Regions from separate parts of the Homo sapiens genome. Here all the other regions are linked to region 3. Evidence: fine-mapped expression QTL. A gene starts in region 3. Each other region holds a variant in brackets. All regions are shown on one strand. Distances are from middle to middle.

The links. PIP is the estimated chance that this variant, and not a neighbour inherited with it, causes the effect.
Region 1: its variant is fine-mapped to the expression of CAND2 in amygdala (GTEx, PIP above 0.99).
Region 2: its variant is fine-mapped to the expression of CAND2 in skeletal muscle (FUSION, PIP 0.91).
Region 4: its variant is fine-mapped to the expression of CAND2 in lymphoblastoid cells (GEUVADIS, PIP 0.95).

Annotation. Positions count from the first base shown.
Region 1 is chr3:13,247,374-13,255,477 of GRCh38, reverse strand. It overlaps a transcript of IQSEC1 not described here. Among named protein-coding and RNA genes, the nearest start is that of NUP210, 170 kb to the left of the region's middle. RefSeq lists enhancers at 84-892, 893-1,702. The variant G/C (reference allele first, on the strand shown) is at 4,671.
Region 2 is chr3:12,712,954-12,721,057 of GRCh38, reverse strand. No RefSeq gene overlaps it. Among named protein-coding and RNA genes, the nearest start is that of TMEM40, 42 kb to the left of the region's middle. RefSeq lists an enhancer at 983-1,032. The variant A/T (reference allele first, on the strand shown) is at 3,722.
Region 3 is chr3:12,793,281-12,801,384 of GRCh38, reverse strand. CAND2 (cullin associated and neddylation dissociated 2 (putative)) reads right to left here and starts at 4,705. Exons shown (of 15, transcript NM_001162499.2): 1 at 4,597-4,705. The coding sequence starts at 4,664.
Region 4 is chr3:12,767,876-12,775,975 of GRCh38, reverse strand. It overlaps a transcript of TMEM40 not described here. Among named protein-coding and RNA genes, the nearest start is that of TMEM40, 13 kb to the right of the region's middle. The variant G/TG (reference allele first, on the strand shown) is at 3,466.

The sequences.
Region 1 (8,104 bases), 450 kb before region 3:
ACTGAGACTGGGTTGATGCAGCCATTTGAATCTGGGCACATATTCTACTCTTCCAATACAAGCATAGGCCCTGCGTGTGGGAGCCCCAGCCCCATCCATAGCAATACACCTGTTGCCCCAGGTTGGAGAGGGCCCTTCAGGTGTCCTCAGGATCAGGGGACAGACCTCCGTCTCACAAGGCAGAGCCGTCCTCAGGAACCCCTGGCTGCAGCACCGAAGCCCAGTGTCCGGTCTGCCTCTTTTAGGGGAGAGAGGCAGTGGCTCCCCTCCCTTGGGCTGGGGTGCTGGGGGGTGGTCAGCCATGCGTGTTCTCTGTTAAAGCCCAGCTGGTTTGGAAAGAAAAGAACCTGTTCCTGGTTCCTTCTTGGGTACCAGAAAATTAGTTTTGAATTAACACAAAAGCAGCTTCTAGAGCTGCCTGACGTGGAGGTTGGTCTTCCAGACGTTCCTGCCAGTGCGTCCGCTCTGATTGTCGAGGGAGGTTGGGGGAGGGCTGTGTGGATGTGCCTTGTCGGATCTGGAGCTTTGTCAGGATGCTGGGGAAGCAGGAAGGCTGTGTGGATGCACAGAGACCGCATGGAGGCCCCGGGTCGCAGGTGGCTAACTCTGCGGCCTGGGAAAGCTGGGCAGCCCTGGGCCTCGGTTTCCTCATCTCTAATGTGGGGACAGGCAGGGCCGTCCAGGATTCTAAGCTGAGCTGTGGAGAGCCCTCCGGTGCAGGGCTCTGCCACCTGCTGCTCGCTGGGCAGTAGAGTGGTAGAACCTGGACTTGAGTCCATGGAGGAGGAGGGAGGAAAACGAGTAGGAAGCGCCAGGGAGCTGTGTCGTTGAAAGTGTTTGCCTGCGGTTTGGGCTTTACTCAAATGCCAAAGCCTGTCACCGAAGGGGGCTTGAGCTGGTTTTCCTGCAGCCGGTGCTGGCTGTGATGAAACCTTGCCTACTGCCCTTTTGCTCTTTGCAGCTCATCCCTCACTAACACCTTTGTGCAGGGGGGTTTGGACCAACCTCTGCTCAGAATGGTTTCAGGCACATCTTAGCCTTCCTGATCACCAGTTGGAGGTGTGGAGCAGGGAAGAGGGCTGGACATGGGGACTGATGGGCCGGGTGTGTTCATGGCGCCCTTGTGGCACTGCCATCAGGCCTCCGTGTCCAGCCTGGGCACCTCCTGGCCAGCGAGGCCTCAGGACCCCAGTGCGTCCCCAGGGTGTGGCCTAGCCATGGGGAGCGGGCTCGGTTCATGTTTGCTGAGTCTGCAATCAAACCAAGGCCAGGCTGCACGCCGATGTGGGTGGAGCATCTCATCTGGATCAGAAAACAAAGGGATAAAGCCAAAGTGAGGTCAGAGGGCAGCGTTGTGATGCCAGCCAGGACCTCCAGGTCAACGTGACGGCTGACTGTGGCCCGAAGTGCCCTCTGTCCTCAGATGCGACAGTGGAGGCAGGGCTTGTAGTTATGTGGAGGGGCTGCTGCCTGAGTGGCGCATCACCTGTTGGTCAGAAGCTGGGGCCCCAGTCAGGCATGTGCAGCTATTTCCAGCGGTGGAAACACAGCTTCCATCGGTGGCCTGTGTTCTTCACCCCGTCTTAATGGGGTTCTGCTTCTGGGGGCCCCGGGTATCAGAGCCATTTGACATAACCACCGAGGCACTTGGAAAAGCATGGGTGCTGGGTTACCTCTTCGTCAGATAAAACCGTGGCCTTTTGTCCTCCCTAATTTAGCTTTTGTCGCACAGCGGAGCTCCTCCTACATGCAGTAATCTTCCCAGAAAATGAGGCTGTTGATACTTCAAAAATAGAGTTGCTTAAGAGAATCATTCTGCTTAGTGCCCTTGTGTGCACTCACATTTTGCCTTTTAGAAATCAAATGCTGACTACCCCTTATCTAATATTTTGATGCATGGCGTTTTTAGGAAAATGGAGTTGAGTGTAGTTTTCTGTATGGCAGCGGGGAAATGAGTTGAAAGCAGAGTATTACCGAAGCTTCATTCAGCCTTGGTGTGAGCTCTTCCAACCCCCTGTCCAGTGTCACCGCACCACTCAATACCCGCCATCTTGGCTAAGCTGCCTCGGGTGGGGATGATTACTTCCGGGGAGGAATCTGCTGACCAGGGGGTGCCACACCCCTTCTCTGGGAACTCTTGCATTCTGGAGTCTGATACTCTGAGTTCAGATCCCGGCTCTGCCACTCATGGTATTAGCCTCTGTACCCTATGGCAAGTTACCAAGCCTCTCTCTGCCTCAGTGAAATGTTAAATCTATAAAACAGGGATAATAATGGTAACTATCCTATAGGGCTATTGGGGGTTTAAGTGAGTCAATATTTTCAAAGCACTTTAAAGACTTTCTTGTCCTGCTGAACATCATCAGGAGAAATCCAGTCAAAGCCACAGCGAGAAGCAACCTCACACCCACCAGGGTGGCTACTATCAAAAACGTAGATAATAAGGGACCGGGTGCGGTGGCTTACGCCTGTAGTCCCAGCACTTTGGGAGGCCGAGGCGGGCGGATCACGAGGTCAGGAGATCGAGACCATCCTGGCTAACAAGGTGAAACTCCGTCACTACTAAAAATATAAAAAATTGGCCGGGAGTGGTGGCGGGTGCCTGTGGTCCCAGCTACTCGGGAGGCTGAGGCAGGAGAATGGCGTGAACCCGGGAAGCGGAGCTGGCAGTGAGCTGAGATTGTGCCACTCTACTCCAGCCTGGGTGACAGAGCAAGACTCCGTCTCAAAACAAACAAACAAACAAAAACAAAAAAAAACATAGATAATAAGAAGTCTGTTGGTGAAGTTGTGGAGAAATTGGAACCCTTGTGCCTTGCTGGTGGGAATGTAAATGGTGCCGCCACTGTGGAAACGTTGTGGTGGTTCCTCAAAAAATTAAACATAGACTCACCATTGCATCCCGCAATCCCACTTGTGGGCATATGCCCAAAAGAATTGAACGCGGGGCGTCGAAGAGATACTCGCACACCCACATTCATAGCAGTGTTATTCACAGCAGCCAAAAGATGGAAGCAACCCCAGTGTCTAACCACAGATAAACCGATTCACAAACTGTGGTCTATGCACACAGTGGAATATGGTTGAGCCTTAAAAACAAAGGACATTCTGACACATGCTACAGTGTGGATGAATCTCGAGGGCAGGTGCCAGATGACATGAGCTGCTCACAAAAGGGCAGATCCATACGATCCCCTTATAAAGAGTGTCCTGGAGTAGTCACATTTGTAGAGACAGAAAGTGGAAGGATGGACGCCAGGGGCTGAGGGGAGGGGGATTGGTGAGTTCGTGTTTAATGGGGGCAGAGTTTCAATTTGGGAGGATGAAAAAGTCCTGGAGATGGATGGTAGTGATGGCTGCACAGCACTATGAATGTACTTAGTCCACTGAACTGTACACTTGAAAATGAGTAAGATGATACGTTTTGTGTTGTGTGTAGTTTACCACAATAAAAAATCGGGGAAAAACAGTATGTGGGGCATAGTGAGCACTGGGCTCTGGGTTTGCTCTGCTGCTGCTACTGTTGTACTTATTAAGCTTTCAGCTACATGAGGTCAGAAACTCATTTCTTTGGCTTTGTAGTCTCAGCACTCAGCACCCAGGAGGTACCTTTGTGGAACCTCCTGCCTGGCCTCTAATTCTGGCATGGGTATGTGCTTGTCACTCAATCCTCCTAGCTGGCTCAGCTGCCTTGGCTCGGTCCCTCCTGTCAGGAGTCTTCTTTTGGACATTGACTGTCTCATTAGAATATTGTTGAATGGAACAGAGTCTCATACCCCAGGTAGCGGGCAGTGACCTCTGCATGGTGCAGTCCTTGTCAGAACCTTTGTACCCCTTGGCCAGGCTCCAGCTCTGAGCTGGCATATTTCAGTCTTTTGGATGCCACTGTGTAAATACTGTGGTTTCCTTCTGGGTCCTCTTCTCAAGGTTTTCCTCTGCATCTTGCTGGTCGGGAATTGCAGCAACACTTAAAATATTCCTGAGTGTGAAGGTTCTTTCAGCAAACACTATTCATTTATTTATTCAATAAATATTTATTGAGCTTCTACTCTATGAGCCAGAACTGTTCCAGTTGCTGAGCAGTTACCACAGTGCACAATACAAGGAAATTCCTGTCTTCAGGGTTCTCATTTCAGTGAGGAAAGCCAGACAATAATGGTGGTAAATAGAGGTTATATGTAGTGTGTTTGATTGGAAATGTGCTTAGGAGAAAGATCGAGCTGGGGTGGGTAGGTGGTGTTGGCATGTTAGATGGAATGGAAGCAATGGCCTAAAGGAAGTGGGCAAGTGAGCTGTGTACACATCTGGGAAGAGCCAGCCTGGCCCAGGGCTCAGCCAGTGCAAAGGCCCAGAGGCCTGCAGGTGCCTGGCTTGTTGGGGGAATGGCAAGGAGGCTGGTGTGACTGAGGGGGAGCCGGGGGAGGGTAAGAGGAGGTGAGGACTCAGAAGTCAAGGAGCAGCAGTTCACACAGGGCCCTGGAGGACTCTGCCTTTACCCCCGGCAGGGAGCCTCTTCTGGACAGAGGAGGAGCGATGGGGACCTGGAGCCCTGGATGCTGCATGTGGCAGGGACTCAGGCATGTGGGTGCAGGGAGGGAGCCCAGAGAGGCCACTGCAATGATCCAGGCAAGTGATGACAGTGGCGGGACCAGAGGGGTGGCAGCAGGGGT[G/C]GGGGAAAGCTGGGTTCTGGATGTCCCTTGAAAGTGGGGCTGGCCAGGTGCGGTGGCTCATGCCTGCAATCCCAGCACTTTGGGAGGCCGAGGCGGGCAGATCACCTGAGGTCAGGAGTTTGAGATCAGCCTGGCCAACATGGCGAAACCGTGTCTCTACTAAAATAAAATAAAATAAAATAAAATAAAATAAAATAAAATAAATTATCTGGGTGAGGTGGAGGCGGGCGCCTGTAATCCCAGCTACTCGGAGGCTGAGGCAGGAGAATCATGTGAACCTGGGGGTGGAGGGTGGTGGTGGGGGGAGGTTGAAGTGAGCCAAGATCAAGCCACTGCACTCCAGCCTGGGTGACAGAGCAAGACTCTGTCTCAAAAAAAAAAAAAAAAGGAAAGTGGGGCTGATAGCACTCGCTGACAGTTGTCCATTAGACATCACCGTGGCACTGCTGGTCCCGCGGCTATTGCACCAGGTCCCCGCGTTTGTCCTAGCCTCTGTCATCCCACACAGGGTCGATGCTTCCTGTGTGTGCCGCTGAGCCTCAGCTATCTCGCTGTCTTGGCTCCCACCGCACCTGGAGGTTCCCCTGCATGGCTGGTTCAAACCCAGCTGGCCTTCGTTGAATCTGCAGAGCTTTTACTGTTTGCTGTGTCCCCTGAAAGCCTGTGACAAGCCCTAGAAAGGCTAAGAAGGTTATGTCATAACTGTGTCCTGCTCATGGAAACGTGGAGCCGTGCTGTGAGATGGTCACCATGGCAGCCACAAAAATGAGACCGCTCCACATCAAAGGCAAAATCTTAGAACCTCAGCTGCACAGGCAGCAATGGAGCTGACGGGCCCTCACCTCACAGGTGGGGAAACTGAGCCCAGGGAGGCTAATCACCAGCCCTTGGGCATCTGCGTGGTTAGTGGCAAAGTTGCCATGGAAACCTGTGGGGGTCTTCACATGGCTGAGTGCCTGGAATCAGTCCTGCCCCAAGAGGATGACGGCTGCAGCGTCTGCTCTGTTGGCGTCCTCCTCCTCTGTGCTTCCTTGGAGTCTGCTCCTGTGCTTGTGCCCATCCATCTCACCTTACGCTCCCCTTGACCCCGGCTCCCCCACCTCGTTTTTCAGAAGAGGAGACCGAGACCCAGAGAGATGGAGTGGTTTGCCTAGGGTCACACAGCAAGAGCTGGTATTCGAACCCAAGCTGGTATTCGAACTCCATAACAGCTCCGTATTGGTTCCTAATGTGACTGAAGTAAGGGAACATAAGCCGATGAGCATGACTGAGGGATAGAAATAGAATAAACTCTCTTCAGTGAAAGCATTTGAAGCCATAAGAAATTCCCCCAAAGGGCCAGGCAAGGTGGCTCACGCTTGTAATCTCAGCACTTTGGGAGGCCGAGGCAGGTAGATCACGAGGTCAGGAGATCGAGACCATCCTGGCTAACACGGTGAAACCCCATCTCTACTAAAAATACAAAAAAATTAGCCGGGCGTGCTGGCGGGTGCCTGTAGTCCCAGCTACTCAGGAGGCTAAGGCAGGAGAATGGCAAGAACCTAGGAGGCAGAGCTTGCAGTGAGCCGAGATCGCGCCACTGCACTCCAGCCTGGGTGACAGAGCAAGACTCCGTCTCAAAAAAAAAAAAAAAAAAAAAAGAAATTCCTTCCCCCAAAGGAAGTTTCCTTCTTTTCTATAATTGCGCATCAAAGTCCCACCCTTTGAGAGGTAGAGCTGAGACCCAACAAGGAATTCCAGTGATGAGAGACAGACTCTGCCCACAGTCTGAGTCAGGAGGTAGAGCCTCTCATAAGAGGGGAATTGAAGTCAGGAGCACGGACTGGGGCGAGAGTGTCTGGGTCCAATCCAGCTCTGCACTGATTAATTCTGTGACATTAGGCAAGTGACTTAACCTGTCTGTGCAGCTACGTGACCTCGGGCAAGTTACTCAATCTCTCTGTGCAGCTGTGTGACCTCTGGCAGGTGACTTAGCCTCTCTGTGCAGCTCTGTGACCTCAGGCAAGTTACTCAACCTCTCTGCACTCCAGTTTCCTCATCTATAACATGGATATAATAAAAATAGCCTGGTCTGTACGACGTGATTAGTAACTGTCAGCCACACCAGGTGCTATCCCAAGATTTATACTTACAGCACTTTATTTAACCTTCACATGACCTGTAAGGGGGCTACTTTTATTCTGAGAGTCACAAAGGGTACTGAGGGAGCAGGACTGCATGAGTGGTTTGGAGCTGCCAGGAATGGCCTCCTGGAGAAGGGGATGGTGTGGACAGGCCTTGGAGTGGGGAGAGGACCAGAGCCAAGGAAGGGGTTGGCATTCCACGTTCTCTCAGGGGAGACTGGGAGTAGGTTTTGAGGGTGAGCCCGATTGGAAACCAGAGGGACTCTAGTTTTCCCAGGACCTGGGCACAGGTGGGAGTCAGGTGGGAGGTGGGGATGAGGCCAGGAAGTCCAGAGCTCGGGGATCCTCAAGCACCAGCTGAGAGATTCCTTCTTTGTTGAGAGGCAGTGGTGTAGCCAGAACTGTCTATGAGGAAGATAAAGGGGAAAACCCCGGCTTCCTCCTGAACCCACGTAGATGCTGGATTTCCAGTGGCCTTGGGGACACAATAGGGGTCTGACCACTTGGAAAGAGCCCAGGTTTCCAAGCCCAGAGCTTGCCCTTCCTGCAGTCTGGGAGGTCTCAGAACCCAGCTTTGCAGCCCTCTGAGGGTGAATGGATGGGGGATGCCCCCAAACCTGGTGACTCCAGGGGAACCTTAAGAACCTGTAGGGGGCATTTTGACATCCAAACCTACACTCCCACGAGCTTGGACTTGACCACAGGCACAAGGCAGGAGAGGACTGTGAACAGTGGCCCACGGTCCTGGACAAAGAGCCCACTGGAACCCCAGGAAGACAGGCCCAGTAAGTGCGTCTCCTTAGGCCGTGGAGGCAGGGTTCCCACAGCGTGTCTGTGGGAAGATGGGGAACGTGCAGTGGGGAACAGTGCCTGCAATGCCTGTGTGCCCTGGGAGGTGGCTGGGGGGTGTCAACAGCCCAGAGGAAGTCCCCGGCCCTCCCTCCAGATCCAGATCCAGATGGAGACCATGAAACTCACTTATCAAATTTGCACTTGACTTGGAAGTGAGAAGGCGGCTGATGTGATGGCATCGAGACTGTAAGTGATTCTGATGCCCCTAACTGTAGGGCGAAGGCTCATGGAGTGAAAATTATGAGAGAGAAATTTCTGCTTCAGCTCCAGGCTGAAGAAAAGAAGGAGAGAGCCAAGTCCCAGCTTCTGGCGTGGAGCCTGACCATAGTGAGCTCTTTATCAGCCGAGGCAGGGTCAGTCCTTGTCCCAAGGGGGGCGATGAGGGAGGTGAGGCCACAGCAGCCGCAACATTCATCCAGGTGCTGCAGTGCACACCTCTGGCTGTCCCCGACAGAGCAG
Region 2 (8,104 bases), 80 kb after region 3:
TAAGAAAAATGTGTCAGAGGGTGCTAAGTGCTATGTAAGAAGAGGGGGCTGGGCACAGTGGCTCACGCCTGTAATCCCAGCACTTTGAGAGGCCGAGGAAGGTGGATCACCTGAGGTCAGGAGTTTGAGACCAGCCTGGCCAACACGGTGAAACCCTGTCTCTACTAAAACTACAATAATTAGGTGGGCATGGTGGTGGGTGGCTGTAATTCCAGCTACTTGAAAGGCTGAGGCAGGAGAATCGCTTGAACCCAGGAGGTGGAAGTTGCAGTGAGCACTCCAGCCTGGGTGACAAGAGTGAAACTCAGTGTCAAAAAAAAAAAAAAAAAAAAAAAAGCAGGGGACAGGGAGTGCTGGGGAAGTGCTCACTGAAAAGATGACGTTGGGCAAAGGAAGTGAAGGACTAGCTATGCGGCTGTCTGGAGGAAAAGTGTTTCAGGCAGAAGGAATAGCAAGTACGAAGCCCCTGAGGCAGAAACAAGCAGGGCAAATTGGAGGAGCAGCCAGAAAACAAAGAAAATAAAATATTAAAAAAGGATACATACATACAGGTAATAAAACTGTAAGGAAAGTGAAAAGATAAACACCTGCTGGGGAGAAGGAGGGAGAGAAGCAGGGCCAGTGTCTAATGCGCTGGCAATGCTTTGTTTTTGTAGGTGGTGGTTACACAATAGATACACAATATCTATTTTCCAAGCTGTATGTATATCCTAGATACTTTTCTGTATGTTATATTTCACAATAAAGACGATTTAAATCATGTGTTAGTCTTTACTGTTTGCTCAACTGTGGGTGCTATTACAGGGCATAGACACAAGAGGGGGCGCTAACCAATGAGCAGCGGCAAAGCAGTGTTTCCTAGCAACGGGGAAAACGTTGAAGCAGAAACTTCCTTCAGAGTGGTTAACTGATGGATTCTGGCTGCTGCCCCTGACAGGTCGGCCAGAGTCCACTTCGCACCCTGGAGGCGTCTCTGCAGGGTCTGGAGTGTCACTGACTTTTGTGGGGAGTAGAGCTCTTCTCCCAAATGCGAAATCGGGTCTGCAGAACACGAGAGGTTGCTCCCTTGTGCCGCGGAGCTTTCTTCTCCTGCCAATGTTAGATAATAACGACGTCCTCATTAACAGATGCCATTATTAATATCATTAGTAACAGAGGGCTCTTATCCGTAAGACTCCAAACAAGTCGTAGTGTTTCCCTCGAAAAACGGAGGAAATTAAAGAATGGAAAGGAGGGACCTTGCCTCCAGCCTTCTAAGACCTCAGGTCTTCTAAGACCTCAGGTCTCTCTCTCTCTCTGTCTGTCTCTCTCTCTGTCTCTGTCTCTCTCTGTCTCTCTCTCTCTCCTCTCTCCTCTCTCCTTCTCCTCTGTCTCTCACTCCTCTCTCTCCTCTCTCTCTCCTCTGTCTCTCACTCCTCTCTCTCTGTCTCATACGCACACAAAGAGAGAGAGGTTTTTCAAGATTTGGGATGCGGTGGAAGTTTTCAAGATTGCTGGCCGGTCATGGTGGCTCACATCTGTAATCCCAGTATTTTGGGAGGCCGAGGGCAGATCACCTGAGGTCAGGAATTCAAGACCAGCCGGGCCAACATGGCAAAACCCCGTCTCTACTAAAAATACAAAAATTAGCTGGGCGTGGTGGTGCGCGCCTATAATCCCAGCTACTCTCAGAAGGCTGAGGCAGGAGAATCACTTGAACCCGGGAGGTGGAGGTTGAAGTGAGCCAAGATCATGCCGCTGAACTCCAGCATGGGTGACAAAGTGAGACCCCGTTTCAAAAGGGGAAAAAAAAAAGATTATTGACAAAGCAGAAGGTTTTATGATACACAGGTAAATATTAGGTAAATTTGAGGCTGAGTGGGATTATGGTAATGAATACCTACACTGTTAAAAGAAGTTACCCCAGACTTTATCTCACTTGACTTTACAATCACTTTGGTACCACTCCATTTTGGAGATGAAGAAACTGAGGCTTAGAGAGGTTAAACTGTGAGCATGCCAGAGCTTTCCTCCCAATCCAATTTACTAAAGAAGAAGTATTAACTAGCTTTTTTTTTTTTTTTTTTTTGAGGCGGAGTCTCGCTCTGTCGCTCAGGCTGGAGTGCAGTGGCGCTATCTCGGCTCACTGCAAGCTCCACCTCCCGGGTTCACGCCATTCTCCTGCCTCAGCCTCCCGAGTAGCTGGGACTACAGGTGCCCGCCACCGCGTCCGGCTAATTTTTTGCATTTTTAGTAGAGACAGGGTTTCACCGTGTTACCCAGGATGGTCTCGATCTCCTGACCTCGTGATCCACCCGCCTCGGCCTCCCAAAGTGCTGGGATTACAGGCGTGAGCCACCGCGCCCGGCCTTAACTAGCTTATTTTTAAGGGGTGGGGGAAGCTGTTAATTGTCTCTCATGCCTGTAATCCAGGACTTTGGGAGGCTGAGGCAGGCAGATCATGAGATCAGGAGTTCAAGACCAGCCTGGGGCCGGGCGCGGTGGCTCATGCCTGTAATCCCAGCATTTTGGGAGGCCGAGGCGGGTGGATCACGAGGTCAGGAGATCAAGACCATCCTGGCGAATACGGTGAAACCCCGTCTCTACTAAAAATACAAAAAATTAGCCGGGCAAGGTGGCGCACGCCTGTAGTCCCAGCTACTCGGGAGGCTGAGGCAGGAGAATGGCGTGAACCCGGGAGGCGGAGCTTGCAGTGAGCAGAGATCGTGCCATTGCACTCCAGCCTGGGCCACAGAGCAAGACTCCGTCTCAAAAAAAAAAAAAAAAAAAAAAAAAAAAAAAAGACCAGCCTGGCCAACATAGTGAAACCCCATCTCTACTAAAAATACAAAAATTAGCCGGGCGTGGTGGCTGGCACCTGTAGTCCCAGCTACTTGGGGGGCTGAGGGAACCCGGGAGGTGTAGGTTGCAGTGAGCTGAGATCGTGCCACTGCACTTCAGCCTGGGCGACACAGCGAGACTCTGTCTCAAAAAAAAAAAAAAATTGTCTCTCATAACCAAAGAAAGTTAAAACAATGGAGAGGTAGTTTATTTTCTCATTAAAATAGCAAAACTATTTTCAATCATAATACCTCACACTAGGAAGGCCTAGTGGAAACTGGCAGTCTTGTACGACGCTAACGGCAGCATAAACCAGTAGCCACTCATCGGGAGAGCAGTCTGGCAACACCCAGCAGAAGCCATAAAAATGTTCCTACCCTTTGATCCAGCAACCCAGGTTCTGGGAATCTATCCTAAGGACATAATTTGAAATTTAGGAAAAGGTGTATGTGCAAATATTGGTGGCAGCATTATTTATGTTGGTGAAAAATTGGAAACAACTAAGGGAAATGGGTGATCAAGGGCACAACTCTATTAAGTAACCTGAATGTCTCCTTTTTAAAAAAATGATGACTGCAAAAATTTTGAAAATTACCTGGGTGTGGCTGGGCATGGTGGCTCACGCCTATAATCCCAATACTTTGGGAGGCTGAAGTGGGTGGATCACTTAAGGTCAGGAGTTCAAGACCAGCCTTGGTAACATGGCCAAACCCTGTCTCTACAAAAAATATAAAAAAAAAATTAGCTGGGTGTGGTGATGCATGCCAGTAGTCGCAGCTACTCCAGAGGCTGAGATGGGAGGATTACTTGCACCCAGGAGTTCAAGGCTGCAGTGAACTGTGATCCTGCCACTGCAACTTCGGCCTGGGTGACAGAATGAGACTTGTCTTCTAAAAACAAA[A/T]AAAAAAATATATATATATACACACACACACACACATACACATATATATACATATATACACTTATATACATATATACACATATATACATATATACACATATACACATATATACATATATACACATATACACATATATATACATATATATACACACATATATATCTTATTCTGAAGACTGTGACATCATGGGAAATGCTGCTGTGTAATGTTTTTTAAAGTTTAGCTAGACTTCCCTCATACAGGAATGCCGTGCAATACTAAATGAAAACAAAAGCAGCTACAAAATAACAGGGATATCAATCAACCTCATAAGTACATACCATTCCATTCATGTGGGGAGAAAGCTAAGGCAGGAGAAGAAACTATGTTGGGGAGATAAGAATGCTTTTTTTTCTCTTGTTTTTTGTTTGTTTTCATAACTTTTTTCTCCCCTTTCACTTCTACTCGGGATCTTCTTCCTTCTTCCTTCTTGTTTCTTCTTCTTTTCTTTTTTTTTTTTTTTTTAGATAGGATCTTGCTCTGTCATCCAGGCTCCAGTGCCTCTGCCCAGTCACAGCAAACTGCAGCCTCAACCTCCTGGGTTCAAGCAAACCTCAGCATCCCAGGTAGCCAAGACTAAAGACACAGGCCACCAGACCAAGCTTTTATTTTGAAATGGGATTTCACTATGTTCCTCAGGCTGGTTTCAAACTTCCGGTTTCAAAAAATCCTCCCACCTCAGCCTCCCAAAGAGTTGGGATTACAGGTGTGAGCCACTGTGCCTGGCCTACTTTTTCTTCTTTTCAAAATAAAATTTTAGTAGGTATTTCTTATATCAGTTGGTAATGTAATCTTACTCCAGGAAAGCCAGGAAATATAAGAATATTAAGTCCAGGCACAGCGGCTCACAACTATAATCCCAGAACTTTAGGAGGCTGAAGCAGAAGATTGCTTGAGCCCAGGAGTTTGAGACCAGCCTGAGCAATATAGCAAGACTCCATCGCCACAAAAATCTTTAAAATTGCTAGGCACAGTGGTACCCACCTATAGTCCTAGCTATTTGGGAAGCTGAGGTGGGAAAATGATTTGAGTCCGGAAGTTGGAGGCCCCAGTGAGCTGTGATTGCACCATTGCACTCCAGCCAGGATGACAGAGAGAGACTGTCTCTAAAACATATGTATTAATATATTCATACTCTCACTCATAAACAACTTCTAGTAACAGTGGTTAGAGCAGTGATTCCCAAACTTGAATGCACTTGAGAGGCCTAGGTGGGCGGATCACTTGAGCCCAGGAGTTTGAGATCAACATAGGCAACATGGTGAAATCCTATCTCTACAAAAAATGGGCCGGGCGCCATGGTTCATGCCTGTAATCCCAGTACATTGGGAGGCCAAGGTGGGCAGATCACGAGGTCAGGAGTTCAAGACCAGCCTGGCCAACATGGTGAACTCCCATCTCTACTAAAAATACAAAAATTAGCTGGGCATGCTAGTGTGTGCCTGTAGTCCCAGCTACTTGGGAGGCTGAGGTGAGAGAATCCACCTGAGCCTGGGAAGTTGAGGGTACAGTGAGTCATGATTGCACCACTGCACTCCAGCCTGGGTGACAGAGCAAGACTTTGTCTCAAAAAAAAACCAACCAAACAAAAATAATCCAGATGTCTGTGTCCCACCCTGGAATTTCTGATTCAGTAGATGTGGGATGGGGCCCAAGAATTTACATTTTTTGACAAGTTTTCAAATGACACTGACGCTGCCAGTCCCTGGGCCACACTTTGAGAACCACCACCTTAACGTATAGTCTTATCAAATCTTTCTGTATGTCACACATGTAGATTCTTCACCAAAAAAAATGATGGACATTTAGACTGTTTTTCCAAGAGCCTTCTTTTACCTAAATATCTGGTGCATTCTTAATTATCTGAATAGCTAAGAATTTTTTTTTTTTTTTCTTTGGGACGGAGTCTCGCTCTGTCACCCAGGCTGGAGTGCAGTGGTGCGATCTGGGCTCACTGCAAGCTCTGCTTCCCAGGTTCATGCCATTCTCCTGCCTCAGCCTCCCAAGTAGCTGGGACAACAGGCTCCCACCACCACGCCCGGCTAATTTTTTGTATTTTTAGTAGAGACAGGGTTTCACTGCATTAGCCAGGATGGTCTCAATCTCCTGACCTCGTGATCCGCCTGCCTCGGCCGCCCAAAGTGTGGGGATTACAGGCATGAGCCACTGCGCCCGGCCCTGACTAACCAAGATTATCATAATCATTAATTTACTCTAAATTACTAAAGTTATTAGGATTAAGTTTCCATTTTCAGAAATGGAATTGTTGGATCAATAGACATGCATGTTTTTCAAGCTTCAATATGTATCATCAAATCGCTACCATAGAATCTTTTTTTTTTTTGAGACAGGAGTGCAGTGGTGTGATCTCAGCTCACCACAACCTCTGCCTCCCAGGCTCAAGTGATTCTCCTGCCTCGGCCTCCTGAGTAGCTGGGATTACAGGCGTCCATCAGGTCTGCCCAGTCAATTTTTATATTTTTAGTAGAGATGGGGTTTCATCATGTTGGCGAGGCTGGTCTCAAACTCCTGACCTCAAATAATCCACCCACCTCGGCCTCCCAAAGTGCTAGGATTACAGGCGTGAGCCACTGCACCTGGCTTATAGAATCTAATATTTACCATACACCATGTAAGTACATCATCTCATTTAATCTTCAAAATTCATTTATTCATTCATTCAGCATATATTCTTTGAATGCTACTTTGTGCCACATATTTTAGGGACTCAGAGATGAGCGAGACATAGCAACCCTCTGAGGTAGATACTATTATTATTCAGATAATTATTATTCAGATAAATTATAAAATAATTATAATAATAAAATATACAAATATATATTATATATTATATAATTATTATTCAGATATTATTATTATTCAGATAAAGAAACTGAGATCCAGGCCAGGCATGGTGGCTCACATCTGTAATCCCAGCACTTTGGGGGGCCGAGGCAGGTGGATCGCTTGAGCTCAGGAGTTTGAGACCACCCAGGGCAACATGATGAAACCCCGTCTTTACTAACAATACAAAAAAATTTACCGGGTGTGGTGGTGCACACCTCTAGTCCCAGCTACTTGGGAGGCTGAGGCAGGAGAATCGCTTGAGCCCCAGAGGCAAAGATCGCAGTGAGTCGAGATCACGCCACTGCACTCCAGCTTGGGCTACAGAGTGCGGCTCCATCTCAAGAAAAAAAAAACAACTGAGATCCATGAGGTGACTTGCCTAAGGACACACAGAGAGCCATTCCTTGCACTGCTTCATTTGCACAAAGTTGATCCTCTGGCTCTCAACAGCCTCATGCTGCTTTGCTCCATATGGAAAGGGATATTTTAGTTTTGGGTGGCAACTTTTTTTCCTCTTTCTTTTTCCATTACAATTCTGGAAAAATTAAATGAGGAAACATCCTGGCATATAGTTTAGGAAATACAGTTTGTCTGAAAGCTGCCAGGAATAAAAACTAACACTTTCTCCACTGAGTTTTATCTCCCACTTTTTTTTTTTTTTTTTTTTTTTTTTTTTGAGACAGGGTCTCGCTGTGTCTCCCAGGCTGGAGTGCAGTGGTACGATCACAGCTCACTGCAGCCTTGACCTTCTGGGCTCAAGTGATCCTCCCACCTCAGCCTCCCAAGTAGCTGAGACTACAGGTATGTGCCATCATGCCTGGCTAATTTTTTTGTATGTTTTGTAGAAATGGGGTTTTGCTTTGTTGCCCAGGCTGGTCTCTAACTCCTGGGCTCAAACGATCCTCCCACCTCAGCCTTCCAAAGTGCTGAGATTACAGTCATAAGCCACTGTGCCCAGCATTATCTCCCACTTTTAATAAATTAGGCAGAATTGGCCCCTTTTGATCTGAAAATTAGACTTGTTAATAACATTTCTAACAAAAAACATGATGGAGTTTTATGGACATGTAGCAATTTAGTCATCTCTTTTTCAGTTTCCTAAATTAACTCTAATTACAATTATTGGCTGGGTAGCTTAGTGATTAAGTAAAAAGCTTGTGAGTCAAACAGATTTGACAAAAAAAAGTTTTACAATAAATATTTGTAAAACTCTCTAAACTTCAGTTTCTTTGTCTGTAAAATGCAGCTGAAACTACTTCTTCATTGAATTCTCTAGAAGATCTCAAAGATTCAGGGGTCGTGGTCACCATCTACCCCCCATTTAATTCACTAAACTGACTCCTGCAAGAATTGAATGGATCCTGGAGGATGATGGAGGACTACTGCAAACTCAGCCAAATAGTAATTGTGATATGGTTTGGCTGTGTCCCCACCCAAATCTCATTTTGAACTGTAGCTCCCATAATTCCCATGTGTTGTGGCAGGGACCTGGTGGG
Region 3 (8,104 bases):
TGTCAACATTTGAACATTGGGAAAGTTGACACAAAAATACTGACTTTGGCCTGGCATGGCGGCTCACGCCTGTAATCCCAGCACTTTAGGAGGCTGAGGCGGGTGGATCACCTGAGGTCAAAAGTTCTAGATCAGCCTGGCCAATATGGTGAAACCCTGTCTCTATTAAAAATACAAAAATTAGCCGAGCGCGGTGGCAGACACCTGTAATCCTAGCTACTGGGAAGGCTGAGGCAGGTGAATCACTTGAACCCGGGAGGCAAAGGTTGCAGTGAGCTGAGATCGTGCCACTGCACTCCAGCCTGGGTAACAGTGCGAGTATCCATCTCAAAAAAAAAAAAAAAAAAAAATACTGATTTCCAGGCTGGGCGCAGCAGCTCACGCCTGCAATCCCAGCACTTTGGGAGGCCAAGGTCGCCAGATCACTTAAGGTCAGAAATTAGAGACCAGCCTGGCCAACAGGGGGAAACCCCATCTCTACTAAAAATACGAAAATTAGCCAGGTATGGTGGTGCACACCTGTAGTCCCAGCTACTTGGGAGGCTGAGGCAGGAGAATCACTTGAACCCAGGAGGCAGAGGTTGCAGTGAGCCAAGATCGTGCCACAGCACTCCAGCCTGGGTGACAGAGTGAGACTCAAAAAAAAACAAAAACAAAAACAAAAACAAAACACTGACTTCCAGATTATCTTGAAAACAGAATATTTGAGTACAACGGGGCCTACAATCCCTGGTGACAATACCTGATTAGAATCAGGTTGTGGCTGCCCTCTCCCCAGTTCACCTGGTCCCCACTAGGCCCACTTCACCCACTGACTGGCTCCTGCAGGCATGTGAGAGCGGAGTCTCAGGAGAAAACAGGACAGAGCAGCGAGGAGATACTGTAAGGCTGCCTCGGAGAAAGCCTCCAGCTTTTACTGACCCTGCTGGGCCACTCTACCACCCCACGCTGGCCCTGCTTTCCAGCATGGTTGAGCAAATCAACCAAGAGCCCTGACCCCCGCCTCCTGTGGCAAAATCTATCACAGTTGGGATTCTGGCTCTCATCTGTGCAGACTCAGACCTGCTCCTAGATGTCACTGCAGCCCACAGTGCCCTGTTACCAGGGGTGGACTGGTCGATGACCTATTTATTTTTAACAGGTAGATTAGCCACAAGTTGCTAGGAGAGAGAAGGAGGCTGGGCTGGCAGCATGGGCAGGATGGCAGGACTGACTGTGCCCACCTCTGGGCAAAGGTAAAGTGAAGGAGGAGGTTTGGATTTGAGCCAGGCCAAGGCCTGAGGTGAGCACATGCACCCCTACGTCTGCTCAGCTGAGGGGACATTCTGAGATGGCACCCAGGGTCTCCAAGTTGTGTTTCTGCTGCAGTCCATGGGGGCCCAGCTCAGCCTGGCAACCCAGGCGATGTGCCTCTTTGCCCAAGATAGGCCTTCTATCCCCGCTCTTCTTCTTCATCTGTTGAGCTCCTCCTATTCACCCATCAAGAGCCCAGCTCAAATGTCCCAGCTCAAGGATGACTGACCTCCCTGCCCTACCCCTGCATCCACAGCCCCTAAGCACAATGGTTCCCTGGACAAGATCCTTTCAGAGCACTCTGCACCCCTCCTTTATAGCACTTCTCACACTGCAATACAAGTCTGGCCACCAGAGCATCTTCTCCATTGGACTGTACACTCACTGAGGGCAGAGGCTCATCAGGTTTATCTCTGGGACTCCAGGCTCAACAAAGAACAGGTCTGCAGAGGGCTTTGTCAGGGAGGGTGAGAGCAGGAGGAGAGGTAGTGAGAGAGCTAGCCCTTAACAGAACTTACAGCCAAATAGTCCGAATTCAGAAACCAACTCTTCTGAAGTATGCCTCAGCATTTCAGACACCCCTGGTTCCTGCAGACACTAGCTCTCGGAGAAAGCAAGCCATGTTTTATACGTGTATGTGTGTAGGGATGGGAGAGAGAAGGAAAAGTATATAATTTGGTGGATAAGAGCTTGAGCACCAAAGTTTGGCTTTAAGTGAGTATACTTACTAGTCTTGCCATTTATCAACTAGGTGACATTGGGCAACTACCTCCTTTTCTCTGGGCCTCAGATTTTCTATATATAAAATGGGAACTTTTCTTTGCCCTACCTCATAGTATCCTTGGGAGGTTTCAATAGGACAATCTAGCTCTTAGCATGAGGTAGTAAGAAAACTAGGCTCAGGGAGGCTGCACAAACTGCCTACGGTAACAGCAAACTGGGCGGAAAACCAGCCCACCACACAGGTCTCCTGGCTTTTCAACCAATAATACTACTGTGTTTTCAAGAAATGACTTGGTAATTCCTGCAAGACCTGCAAGGGTACTCGTTTTGACTGCTGGAGCCTCCGTGGTAATGGGGCACCTCCTGCCCATAAAGCCAGGGCCCAGGAAGAACAGGAAACAAAGGTCTCCCTCCACCCCACCTGGGACCCCCATTTGCAGTCGCTGCCCCGCTCCAGGAACCAGAGGACAGTCTCAGTTTCATTACAGAGAAACCCTAGAGGCAACTCAGCTGAAACCCTTGGCCACACGGACGCCTGGACAGCTGGTCTGCAGGACCCAGCACCCTGGTATTCGGACTTTAAAAATAGACACCATTCTCACATGCTTGGGGTGGTTTTAAGTGTTCTCCAGGCCACTGGCAGAGACAGGCTGAAAGGGCTTCTCGGGCTGTAGCTGGCAGGGCCAACTCCCTCTCCCAGAGACTGGACCAGAGGCCTGAGAGACACTAGCGCAAATCCCCTAGGCCACTAGCCAGCTCTGTGACCTTGGGCAAGTCACTGCACTCCTCCAAGCCTCCGGAAAACAGGAAGAACAATCACTACCACCCATGGGTGGACTGAGATTACACGTGGGGTGCACAGTAGGGAGCCTGGGACCCAGCGAACATTCACTAAGCACCTACCGTGTACTCAGCACAGGTGTTGGGGCACTAAGAGGAAGTGCATAGTCCCAGTGGCCCAGGAGCTCAGGGTCTCCCAGGGCTGAAAAGTGATCTAGCAGAAACATGAGGGGAGGCATGATGGGAGCTGAAAGGAGGTACCTAATCCTGCCTGGGGTCAAGAGTTATAGGAGCTGTCAGATGAAGGGAGGAGGTCAAGGGAGAGCAAAGAATCCCCCTAGTGAAGGTCTAGAGAGGGGACAGGGCGTGGCAGATTTTGGATGTGCACAGAATCATAACAGTGTCCGTTTATGAAGCACCGACCTAGTGCCTGCCATGAACCTGAGCATTTCACATGTACTATCTTATTTAATCCTTACCCCAACCCTCAGAGATGGGTTCTGTTATCCCCATTTTATAGAAACAGAAGCACAGGGAGACTCATGGGGGTTAAGTTACTTGTCCATGGTCACACGGCCAGTGAGTGACGGCAGCTGGGATCTGAAGCCAAGACCTTGGATCCCAGGCTCTATTAATGTGGGGGGGCTCTTGAGGGGTACTGAGGAATGGGCTGCAGGAGAAGAGTAGGAGTCAGACCACCAGAGCAGGTCTGTCTCCTCACCTGTCAGGGGGCTGGAATCAGAGGACCTCACTAAGATCTTGGCCTCTGTATTAGACTGGCCTGGATTTGGACTAAGTCTCCCACTTCCTCGCTGTGACTGAACCTACGCCCTTCATGTCTCTGAGACTCAGTTTCCCTATCTGTAAAATGGGGACAAAGTGAAAAAATGTTCATTGAGTCTCCAAGGTCTTCTTTCAGCTGGAGGGGCCAGAACTGGCCATGAGACCACGGGCCAATCCCTTTTCCTCCCTGGGCCTCAGTTTCCCCAGGGAATGCAGGTGGAAACTCATTGGACCAGATGTTTCCACCGTTCTTTTCAGCTCTATTCCTGTGGTTCTGTGATGCTGTGAGAGGGGGAAAGAAGGAAAAAGGGAGTGGGGAAGGAGAGTGGCACACAAAACCTAGAAGGTCCCACCCCAACCATCACCTACCTGTGACTGGAAAGCCAGACTCAGCCCAGCCCCCTCCTTTAGGCTGGGTCTGAACAATCGCAGGAGGGGAGGGAGACGGGGAGGGAGGGGTCCGGGTGATGTTGAGAAGGAGGCATCACTGAGGGTGCCAGTGAGAAAGTCAGCTGGGGGTTGCGGTCCCGGGAAGGGTCCGGGTTCAATGCGGAGGAGAGGCAGGTGCTGGGGTCCCCAGGGAGAGGCGTAGGGCTTCACTGTGGGCTCGCTGAAGGTGGTGGGGGCGGGGGGGAGGGGGCGCTGGGGCATCAGCTGCGGGGGAAGAAGGGGGCCGGACACACACGAGGGAGGAGAGGCCGAGGCAGGGTGCAGAGGGGTGGAGCCGGGGCTCTGATCGGGGGTGAGAGGTAGGGCTGAAGCCTGCACGGTGGGAGACGAAGCAGGGACTGGAGTCGCGGAGGGGCAGGACGGCCCCTAGGGGAGAACGGCCGGAGCTCCAGTGGGGACCACGAGGCAGGAGTGGGCCTGTGGGGAGGGGGGCAGCTTAATGCAGGGAGAAGAGAGAAGAGGCAGGGGGCTGCATGGTCATGGGGGATGGGCTGGCGCTTCGAGAGGGGAAGAAGGCCCCCGGCTTCAGAGCGGGAAGGAGAGAAGGGGGCCGGCGGCGGGCTGCACCTGAAGTCCTTGTCGCTGGACGTCATCTTCTCCAGGAGGCTGGAGATGTGGAAGGCGGCGGTGCTCATGGTGGCTGCGCGCCGCGGAGCCGGCCGGCGGGAGGGAATATGGCGGCGCGGGCGCCCCCTCCCTCGCCAGCTGCGCGGGCTGCGCTCACCAGACAGAAATAGCAGCTCCCGCCCCGCCCCGTGCTCACGCCTTGGCCGTGGCGGCCGCGGGAGGCGGGCGGGCCTGGGCCTGGCTTGGTGGTCTTGGCCCCGGCCCCAGCCCTTGCCCTGCTGACAGCGCAGCGCCGGATTGCACACACCCCCAGAGACGGGGAGCTCACTACCCTGCCACCACCTCCTTGTTATTCCCGTAGGTGCCAGCTCTGTCTTGCGGCATGGACGTAATATCATAGAGTCTCAGGTTCGAATCCCACTTCTGCCTCTTCTGCTGTGTAGCCTTGGCCAAGTTACTTTACCTCCGCTTTCTCATCTGTAGGCATTCAAGAAACAGGAGCTATCAACCAAAGCTGGTCAGGCCAACCAAAAGACCCCTCACCCACGATGCTTGCCCGCCCCTGAGCCAGACAGGATCTGGGGAATGAACTGAGTCACACAAGGCCCCCTGCCTCGCATCCCCAACCCTCAGGACGGCAGGGTCAGTTTCTTCATTTTTTTAGCAATGCAACTGAGGCCGAGAAGCAAAGGGATTTGCTGAGGGTCACACAGCCAATGAATCTGGGATGGAGTCAGGATTGACTGCAGATCCCTTAATATCCTGCGCAGCAATCCTTCCATAAACAGCCAGGAGGCTGCTGGATGGGAAAGGGAGTAGTGTGTGCTTCAGAGCCAGACAAGCCTGGCTTCAAATCTCTGCTAGGCTCCTTCCTGGCTGTGTGACCTTGGGATAATGAAACAACCTCTCTGGGCTATGTTTTTCTCACTCATAAGATAAGGATAAAAGAAATCTTTATTCACTTGGGAGGCCGAGGCGGGCGGATCACGAGGTCAGGAGATCACGACCATCCTGGCTAACACAGTGAAACCCCGTCTCTACTAAAAATACAAAAAAATTAGCCGGGTGTGGTGGCAGGCGCCTGTAGTCCCAGCTACTCGGGAGGCTGAGGCAGGAGAATGGCGTGAACCCGGGAGGCGGAGCTTGCAGTGAGCGGAGATCGCGCCACTGCACTCCAGCCTGGGCGACAGAGCGAGACTCCGTCTCAAAAAAAAAAAAAAAATCTTTATTAAATTGACACCCCCCTTGAACACCTGTTATTATGAGGTACGTAGGTTCTAGACCAAAGCTAATAGAACACTGCAATGTTGAAAATGTTCTACATCTTCAGTATAGTATCTAATATGATAGCCACTAGCCACATGTGGCTATTGAGCACTTGAAATGGAATTAGTGTGACTGGGGAACCAAATTCTTAATTATATTTATTTTTCATTAACTTAACTTTAAATAGCCCACTATGGGTAGTGGCTATCATAATGGACAGTGCAGATCTGTACAACAAGGATGCAACGCAGCAGGGTGTTAGACACAAACGGCCCCTGCCCCCTGGGGACTTTACATTTTAGTGTAGGAAATCAGCAAGAAGGAAGAAAGTGATTAGATAAGGAAAATAAGAGCTCTTCAGAAAATAAAATAGAGAGTTCCTGGAGCGTGGAGGGGCAACTTCAGCAAAGGTCAGGGAGGGCACTTTTTGAGGAGGAGACATTTGGGCTAAGACCTCAACAGATGAAGCAGCTGGGCAAAGTTTTGAGGGAAGGGCTTCCCAGACAGAGGGAGCAGCAGGTGCAAAGGTCCCGAGGTGGTGGCCGGGTGCGGTGGCTCACACCTGTAATCCCAGCACTTTGGGAGGCCGAGGCAGGAGGATCACGAGGTCAGGAAATCGAGACCATCCTGGCTAACACGATGAAACCCCGTCTCTACTAAAAATACAAAAAAATTAGCCGGGCGTGGTGGCGGGCACCTGTAGTCCCAGCTACTCAGGAGGCTGAGGCAGGAGAATGGCGTGAACCCGGGAGGCAGAGTTCGCAGTGAGACGAGATCGCGCCACTGCACTCCAGCCTGGCGACAGAGCAAGATTCTGCCTCAAAAAAAAAAAAAAAAAAAAAGGTCTCAAGGTGGGAACCAGCCTGATGTGTTTAAGAAAATGCTGTGGCTGGGCCGGGCACGGTGGCTCACGCCTGTAATCCCAGCACTTTGGGAGGCTGAGGCGGGTGGATCACAAGGTCAGGAAATCGAGACCATCCTGGCTAACAAGGTGAAACCCCGTCTCTACTAAAAATACAAAAATTAGCCGGGCGTGATGGTGGGCGCCTGTAATCCCAGCTACTCGGGAGGCTGAGGCAAGAGAATGGCGTGAACCCGGGAGGCGGAGCTTGCAGTGAGCCAAGATGGCACCACTGCACTCCAGCCTGGGAAACAGAGCGAGACTCCATCTCAAAAAAAAGGAAAGAAAGAAAGAAAGAAAAGAAAAGGCTGTGGCTGGCTGGGCGCAGTGGCTCATGCCTGTAATCCCAGCATTTTGGGAGGTTGAGGTGGGTGGATCACATAAGCTCAGGAGTTAAAGACCAGCCTGGGCAACATGGTGAAACCCTGTCTCTACAAAAAATGCAAAAATCAGCCGGGTGTGATGGCACACGCCTGTAGTCCCAGCTACTTGGGGGGCTGAGGTGGAAGAATCTCTTGAACCTGGGAGGCAGAGGTGAGCCTGGGAGGCAGAGGTTGCAGTAAGCTGTGATCGCACCACTGCACTCCAGCCTGGGTGACAAAGTAGACCCTGTTTCAAAAAAAAGGAGGGGAGGAAGGGAGGAAGGGAGGGAGGGAGAGAGGGAGGGCGGGCTATGGCTGGAATGGAATGAGATCAGTCTTCCACTGAGGAAATGAGGACAGAGAGGTGGACAGGGGCCAGATTACTTGAAACCTTTCAGGCCAAGGCAAGGAGTTCGTATTTTATATGGGAACACTAATTTTATGTGGGAACACTAACGCCAGGGAACACTGGATGGCGTAAAGCAAGAAGGTAACTTGATCAGTTTTTGTTGTTGTTTTTGAGACAGAGTATCCCTCTGTTGCCCAGTCTGGAGTGCAGTTGTGTGATCTCGGCTCACTGCAACCTCTGCCTCCCAGGTTCAAGCAGTTCTCCTGCCCCAGCCTCCCGAGTAGCTGGGACTACAGGCACCCGCCGCCACACACGGCAAAATTTTGTATTTTTAGTAGAGATGGGGTTTCACCATGTTGGCCAGGATAGTCTTGAACTCCTGACCTCAGGTGATCCACCCGCCTCAGCCTACCGAAGTGCTGGGATTACAGGTGTGAGCCACTGCGCCCAGCCAGATCAGTTTATTTTATTTTATTTATTTAATTAATTCAGTTATTTATTGAGATGGAATCTTGCTCTGTTGCCCAAGCTGGAGTGCAGTGGTGCAATCTCAGCTCACTGCAACCCCCACCTCCCAGGCTCAAGTAATTCTCCTGCCTCAGCCTCCCAAGTAGCTGGGATTACAGGCAC
Region 4 (8,100 bases), 25 kb after region 3:
ATATCACTCCCTTTTCCTATGTCTCCTCTGTCTCACCTTCAATTTCCCTTCCTGCTGTTTTTTCTGTCTCCATAGCTGACTGAGAAATCTCTTTTGGCTGTAAGAGAGTTAGTAGTAGGAAGAAGTGGGGTTTTAAGAGCAGAGTCCCTGCATTCAAGTTCTGGCCTCACTACTTCGCCCTTTGTTGTTAAATGCAATAGCACTTACCCTCCCTGCCACCTAGCACCTGGTACAGTGCCTGGCACAGTGTAGATGCTCGAGCAATGGACTGAACTGAGAGAAGTGGTGAGGAGCAAGGAAGACAAGAAAGCTATGGCTGTGACAGTGTTTTGTAGAATTTGGGAATAAAGATTCATTTCCATCATCTCCCACCCCTACAGTGAGGGGCAGGGCTGGCTCACTCCCAGAGCCTCCAGCTGATAGGTATCCTGCAGGTGTCTGAAGGTGGGTTTGGCTAACAAACCATCCTCCTCATTTATACTGGCCCATGGTCAGGGCTTCAGGTGTTGCCTGCAGAGAAGTCCCCCAGATGCAGCCCCTTGCTCCAGAAGTCAATCTGCTTGGCCCTGTGGGGGGACCAGGCTGCTCCTTCTGGGCCCCACTTCTTCTGCCTGGGTCTCGGCAGAGGCTTCTGTCCATGGCCTGGTGCTGTGTGTGTGACACCCCAGCCCACCTCAGCAGGATGCTGGAAGAATTCTTTAACCCCTCCTGGAGAACTGAAAAGAACATTTGCTGAGCACTGTCAGATGCCTTCCCTCAAGGGACAAGGGGTTTCTCCATTTGCCCTACAAAGAAACCGAAACTCATGGAGGTTATGTGATTTTGTGAAGGTCACACAGCCAGAGCCAGAGCTCAAAATGGGGTCTCTCAGCTCCCAGCTTAGGGCTATTTATAAAACTGAGCCACTTCTCTTTGGGATGGAGAAAGACGTTTGTAGCTTGAAGTGAACAAGGTGGAACTCTCATTCCATCGCACCTTTTGGGAGTGAATGAGGCAGGCAAGTTGCTGGGGGAGGGTGGCAGGCTCCCCAGACTGGGAGGGAAGTCGAGTCAGAGTGGTGAGTGTTTCTTCAAGCATTTACCAAGGAGCCAGCCATTCGCTAGGCACAGGGGGAGCTAGAGGCAAGCTGGTTAGAAATGTGGTTAAGAACAACTGCTTTGTGGGAAGACAGAGCTGCGTTTCAGTCCCCTCTTGCTGTGTGATTTTGGGCAAGTGACTCAATCTCTCTGAGCCTCAGTTTTCATCTCTATAGAGTAGAAATTATAGCACCTACCTCATGAGGTAAAGCTCTTGGGAGAAAAGCTGGCACAGGGCAAGCTGCTGTGAATGGTAGCTGTTAGTTATTTCTATTACTGTTATGCCCGGTAGGGGAGACATTAACTGACCAACAATTACCGCCCAGTGCGATGTGTGCCACGGCTGAGGGAAGAATCATGGAGACGGTGATGGCTAATTTGATGTGTCAACTTGACTAGGCTAAGAGCTGCCCAGATTGCTGGTAAAACATTATTTCTGGTGTGTCTGTTTCCAGAAGAGATCAGCATTTAAAGCAGTAGACTGAGTAAAGAAATCTGCCCTCACCAGTGCAGGTAAGTATCTTTCAATGTGCTGAGGGTCTAACAGAACCAAAAGGTGGAGGAAGGGCAAATTTGCTGCCTGTGCTTGAGCTGGGACACCCACCTTCCCTTGCCCTCTGATGTCAGAGCTCCTGGTACTGGAACTTACACTACTGACTTTCCTGGACCCCCAGCTTGCAGATGGAGGATTATGGAACTTCTCAGCCTTCATAACTGTGGAGCTAATCCCTCACAATAAATCTCTTCCGGTACATCTACATAAAGTCTATTGGTTCTGTTTCTGTTGGAACCTTGACTAATACAGGGACACAGAAGAGGGAAGGGGGAGAGGGGACTCATGAGCCAAGCCTTGAGGAGCAGTTGCCTTCTCCAGGTATAGAAGTGGATAGGAGTCCCGCCACACATGCTTGCATGTGCACATCCTCAGGCTCCTGTCATTGGGTGGGTGGGACAAATGGTCCTGTGACATCTGCCTGGGCTTGAGCTCAGCTCAAACCACTCAGAAGAGTTACTGCCCAGAGTTCTTGGGAGAATTCCAAGGCTGAAGGCACTGTCTCCTTCCAACAGAGATGAGCCCATTCCAAACACTTAGGGCTTGGGTCTCAAGATGATCTCAAGAGCCTTCTCCTTTATCTTCTCTCCTTCCTCCTGCTCCTTTTCTTCCTTCTGAAAGGGGCCCAAGAATCCCATAGACAGTTGTTTTTGGATAAACATAGAAATTGACCATTCTGCTGTTAAAGATTGAAACTTACATTTGTTTTATCTGAGTTCCTTCCTCAGGAAAGGACCTTCAGGCCTCTCACAAAAAGTATCAAAGAACTGAAACCAGGTGACTGAACTAGGTGCCTGACCCCTCATTCACCATGATTGCCTCCTTGCCCCTCCCAAGTTCCTGTTTTCTTACACATTGTTACATTTCTTGCCTGCTATACCAACCGCTGGTTTTAGTCAGTCAGGAAAATAGATTTGAGACTGAGCTTCCATCTCCTCAGCTGTAGCACTTGATTAAAGGCTTCTTCCTTGGCAATACTTGTCTCAGTAATTGATTTCTGTGCAGCAAGCAGCAGGACCTAGACCAAACCCCTGGTATTTTGGTAACACTTCCTTCTTCCCTCTCCCCTCCTCTTTTATTCCTTCCTCCCCTCTTACCTCTCTCCCTCCTTCCCTCTCTCCCTTCCTCCTTCCTCTCTCCCTCTCTCTCTCCTTCCCTCCCTCCCTTTACTTCTTCCCTCCCTTCCTGTATTTGTCATAAAGGTCAACAACCCCCTCTTATTTATTGCCAGAGACTGTTGAACCCTCCTAAAGAAGTGAACTATATTGGTAGATCCGACAACTCTAGAAAGGAATCACCAGGCCCAAAAGAAATCACAACCGGAGATTCCATAACATTTATAGCAAGGAGTGTCCTGGTGTCCAGTCACTAAATGCTTTCATTCTGGGTTTAAACAAAGATATGGAATACACAGTCCAGACATTTCTGAAAACAGTACTGCCTCTCTAATGCCATGGAACATGGATCCAGTGAGGTACTGCATCCTTGGAAACTTTTATTAAGGAAATTTTGATATATACCCAGTTAGACAATAATATAGCAAATCACCCAGCTTCCACTGTTACCAACATTAGCCAATCTTGCTTCGTCTCTCCCTCTTCCACATTTTTCTGCTGCTCAAGTGCTTCAAAACAAATCCCAGACACAAGTAATCACTTCAGCCCCCATTGCCAATGTATGACTTTGTTTGTTTTGAGATGAAATCTCACTCTATCACCCAGGCTGGAGTACAGTGGCACAATCTCGGCTCACTGCAACCTCTGCCTGCCAGGTTTAAGTGATTCTTGTGCCTCAGCCTCCCCAGTAACTGGAACCACAGGCGTGCTCCACCACACC[G/TG]GCTAATTTTTGTATTTTTAGTAGAAACGGGGTTTCACCATGTTGGCCAGCCTGGTCTTGAACTCCTGACCTAAGGTGATCTGCCCACCTTGGCCTCTCAAAGTGCTGGGATTATAGGCATGAGCCACCATGCCCAGCCTGTTTTTTACATACCACCATGCCATTTTCATACGTAACAAAAATAAAAATAATTCCTTAAATAACTCAATGCCCTATATTCAGTGTTCAGATTGTGTCAAAGCTGTCTATTTGCAATTTGTTTGTAAGATGAGTATTCACAAAATTTCCTGAATTTCCCCCTCCTTCCTGTCCCTGGCCCATCTCAGCCCCAGGCAGGACAGAGGACTGTCTGCCTCCTGTCTCTGTTTTAGAGTAGCCTTGGCCCCACTCGAGTCAGGCCTCCTATAGTGCAGCTCTTGTCTGAGTGTTCCTGCTTAAACCTCTCCAGGGATTCTCCAGGATTTCTCTCAACAACGAAGCTCCCAAACTTCATTCATTCACATACCACTTCCAGAACATTTGCCACATCTATAACCACTTGTATTATTTATTACATATTTTAATATTTAAGGTTTTTGTTTGTTTGTTTGTTTTGAGACAGAGTCTCACTCTATCACCCAGGCTGGAGTGCAGTGGTGTGATCTCGGCTCGCTGCAACCTCCACCTCCCAGGTTCAAGTGATTCTCCTGCCTCAGCCTCCTGAGTAGCTGGGGAGCATGCACCACCATGCCCAGCTAATTTTTGTATTTTTACTAGAGACAGAGTTTCAACATGTTGGCCAGGCTGGTCTCAAACTCCTGACCTCAGGTAATCCACCTGCCTCGGCCTCCCAAAGTGCTGGGATTACAGGTGTGAGCCAGTGCACCCAGGAATATTTAAGGTTTTAAAATTACTTTATTGTAGGGACCAGCCCCACAGGGTTGGTGGGTTTCACCCCGTGTGTGGAGACGAGAGAGTGTAGAAGTAAAGACACAAGACAAAGAGACAAAAGAAAAGACAGCTGGGCCCAGGGAACCACTACCACCAAGTCACGGAGACTGGTAGTGGCCCCAAATGCCGGGCTGCGCTGTTATTTATTGGATACAAGACAAAAGGGGCAGGGTAAAGAGTGTAAGTCATCTCCAATGGTAGGTAAAGCCACGTGGGTCACGTGTCCACCAGACAGGGGGCCCTTCCCTGCCTGGCAGCCAAGGCAGAGAGAGAGAGAGAGAGACGGAGAGAGAGAGACAGCTTACGCCATTATTTCTGCATATCAGAGACTTTTAGTACTTTCACTAATTTTGCTACTGCTATCTAGAAGGCAGAGCCAGGTGTACAGGATGGAACATGAAGGCGGATTAGGAGCATGACCACTGAAGCACAGCATCACAGAGAGATGGTTAGGCCTCCGGATAACTGCGGGCGAGCCTGACTAATGTCAGGCCCTCCACAAGAAGTGGAGGAGTAGAGGCTTCTCTAAACTACCCCAGGGAAAGGGAGACTCCCTTTCCCGGTCTGCTAAGCATCATGTGTTCTTCCTTGACACTTACGCTACCGCTAGACCATGGTCCGCCTGGCAACGGGCGTTTTCCCAGATGCTGGTATTACCGCTAGACCAAGGAGCCCTTCTGGTGGTCCTGTCTGGGCATAACAGAAGGCTCGCACTCTTGTCTTCTGGTCACTCCTCACTGTGTCCCCTCAGCTCCTATCTCTGTATGGCCTGGTTTTTCCTAGGTTATGATTATAGAGCAAGGATTATTATAATATTGGAATAAAGAGTAATTGCTACAAACTAATGATTAATGATATTCATATATAATCATATCTAAGATCTATATCTAGTATAACTATTCTTGTTTTATATTTTATTATACTGGAACAGCTCATGTCCTTGGTCTCTTGCCTCGGCACCTGGGTGGCTTGCCGCCCACACATTATAACTTTTTAACTCACATCTTAAAAAAATTTTTCTTTTTTAATAATAATTACTATTTCATCTTCAACTTTTATTTTAAGTTCAGGGGTACATGTGCAGGATGTGCAGGTTTGTTACATAGGTAAACGTGTGCCATGGTGGTTTGCTGCGCAGATCATCCCATCACCCAGGTATTAAGCCCAGCATCCATTAGCTATTCTTCCTGATGTTCTCCCTCTCCCTGCCAACAAGCGAAATAATTTATTTTTAAAGGAAACTTTATGTTACTACCCAAGACAGAAACCCAGTATTATCTGCCGTAAATTGAAAATAACTATTAAAAAAGACAAAATACCAGGAAAGTGGAACAAGGTTATTATTACATTCTAATTAGATAGCATTGTCTGCTGAAAATTAGAGTGTGTCTCCACAGAGATACATTCTAATACTTTATTAAAAGTGAGCATGGGCTCAAAATGGGCAAGGCATGTTAAAAACACATTAACAGTACACAGAGACTTTCTCCTAGATGTAATAAGTCACCAATATGCAGTTTAAGTGAGCTAAGTTAATGTAACAACCCAATAAGGTAGGTACGATTGCTATCCCCATTTTATGGATGAGGAAACCAGAGCTCAGAGAGGTTAAGTAACTTTCTTGAGGTCAAACAGCTGGTAAGTCACAGTCAGGATCCAAATCCATGCTGTCTGGTTCCAGAGTCATAAACACCATGTTATTCTTAATCAGAAGGGCCCAGACACGTTGAAAATGGAACTTGTTTCTGATTATGTGATTCAGTATTATTGGTGCTAGCTATGATTATCTCCTGAACCACCAGGAATTAGAGGGGCTGACTTGGGGACACCCACTCCTATGGAGTAACCTCTAAGTCCCTTTCATAACCAACTCCTCTCGCCTCAGCTTCCCATCTCAGCTGGGACTGCAGGTACACACCACCACTCCAGGCTAATGTTTTTTGAATTTTTTGTAGAGGCAGGGTCTTGCTATGTTGCCCAGGATGGTCTTGAACTCTTGGCCAGAATCAATCCTTTTGCCTTGGCCTCCCAAAGTGTTGGGATTACAGGTGTGAGCCCCTGCACCCTGTCCCAGCCTCATTTTATTACCCCTCCACTCACCTCCTGCTCCAGAAGGTGGAGCCTTTTTAACTTGTTTAACTAAGGGTGGCTCCTGTTGAGAGGTGACAGCGTGTTGGCAGCCCTCGCAGCCCTCGCTTGCTCTTGGTGCCTCCTCAGCCTCGGCGCCCACTCTGGCCGCACTTGAGGAGCCCTTCAGCCCGCTGCTGCACTGTGGGAGTCCCTTCCTGGGATGGCCGAGGCCGGAGCCGGCTCCCTCAGCCTTCCGGGAGGTATGGAGAGAAAGGCACGGGCGGGAACCGGGGCTGCACGCAGCACTTGAGGGCCGGCTACAGTTCCGGGTGGGCTTGGGCTTGGTAGGCCCCGCACTTGGAGAGGCCCCGCCAGTCCCGGGCAGTGAGGGGCTTAGCACCCGGGACAGCAGCTGTGGAGGGTGCGCCGGGTACCCCAGCAATGCCAGCCTACTGGCGCTGCACTCGATTTCTCGCAGGGCCTTAGCTGCCTCCCTGAGAGGCAGGGATCAGGACCTGCAGTGCGCCTTGCCTGTGCCTCGCCAGGCCGCGCCCCCCCGCCCCCCCCGCCCCCCCCGCCCCGCCCCGGCCCCGGCCCCGGCCCGCCCTGCCCCGCCCCGCCCCGCCATGGGCTCCTGCAGGGCCGAGCCTCCCCAATGAGCGCTGCCCCCTGCTCCACGGCGCCCGGTCCCATCGACCGCCCAAGGGCTGAGGACTGTGGGAGCACTGCGCGGGACTGGCAGGCAGCTCCACCTGCGGCCCCCGGTGCGGGATCCACTGGGTGAAGCCAGCTGGGCTCGTGAGTCTAGTGTGGACTTGGAGAACCTTTATGTCTAGCTAAGGGATTGTAAATAACACCAATCAGCACTCTGTATCTAGCTCAGGTTTGTAAACACACCAATCAGCACCCTGTGTCTAGCTCAGGGTTTGTGGATGCACCAGTCGGCACTCTGTATCTAGCTAATCTGGTGGGGACTTGGAGAATCTTTATGTCTAGCTAAGGGATTGTGAATACACCAATCGGCACTCTGTGTCTAGCTCAGGGATTGTAAATGCACCAATCAGCACCCTGTCAAAACGGACCAATCGGCTCTCTGTAAAATGACCAATCAGCAGGATGTGAGTGGGGCCACATAAGAGAATAAAAGCAGGCTGCCCCAGCCAGCAGTGGTAACCCGCTGGGGTCACCTTTCACACTGTGGAAGCTTTGTTGTTTTGCTCTTTGGGTCCACGCTGGCTTTATGTAGTTGTAACACTCACCACGAAGGTCTGCAGGCTCACTTCTGAGGCCAGCATAGACCACGAACCCACTGGGAGGAACGAACAACTCCAGACGCGTCGCCTTAAGAGCTATAACACTCACCGCGAAGGTCTGCAGCTTCATTCCTGAGCCAGCGAGACCGTGAACCCACCAGAAGGAAGAAACTCCGAACACGCCGCCTTTAAGAACTGTAACACTGCGAGGGTCTGTGGCTTCATTCTTGAAGTCAGTGAGACCAAGAACCCACCAATTCCAGACACACTGTGGTCTCTGGCTGAGGGGCAATGATGGTCCTTAGTGTTCCATTCTGCTCTTGAGTCCGTAACTATGACACTTCCACAAGTTTTGCTTCCTGGACAAGCTATAAGGGGTGTG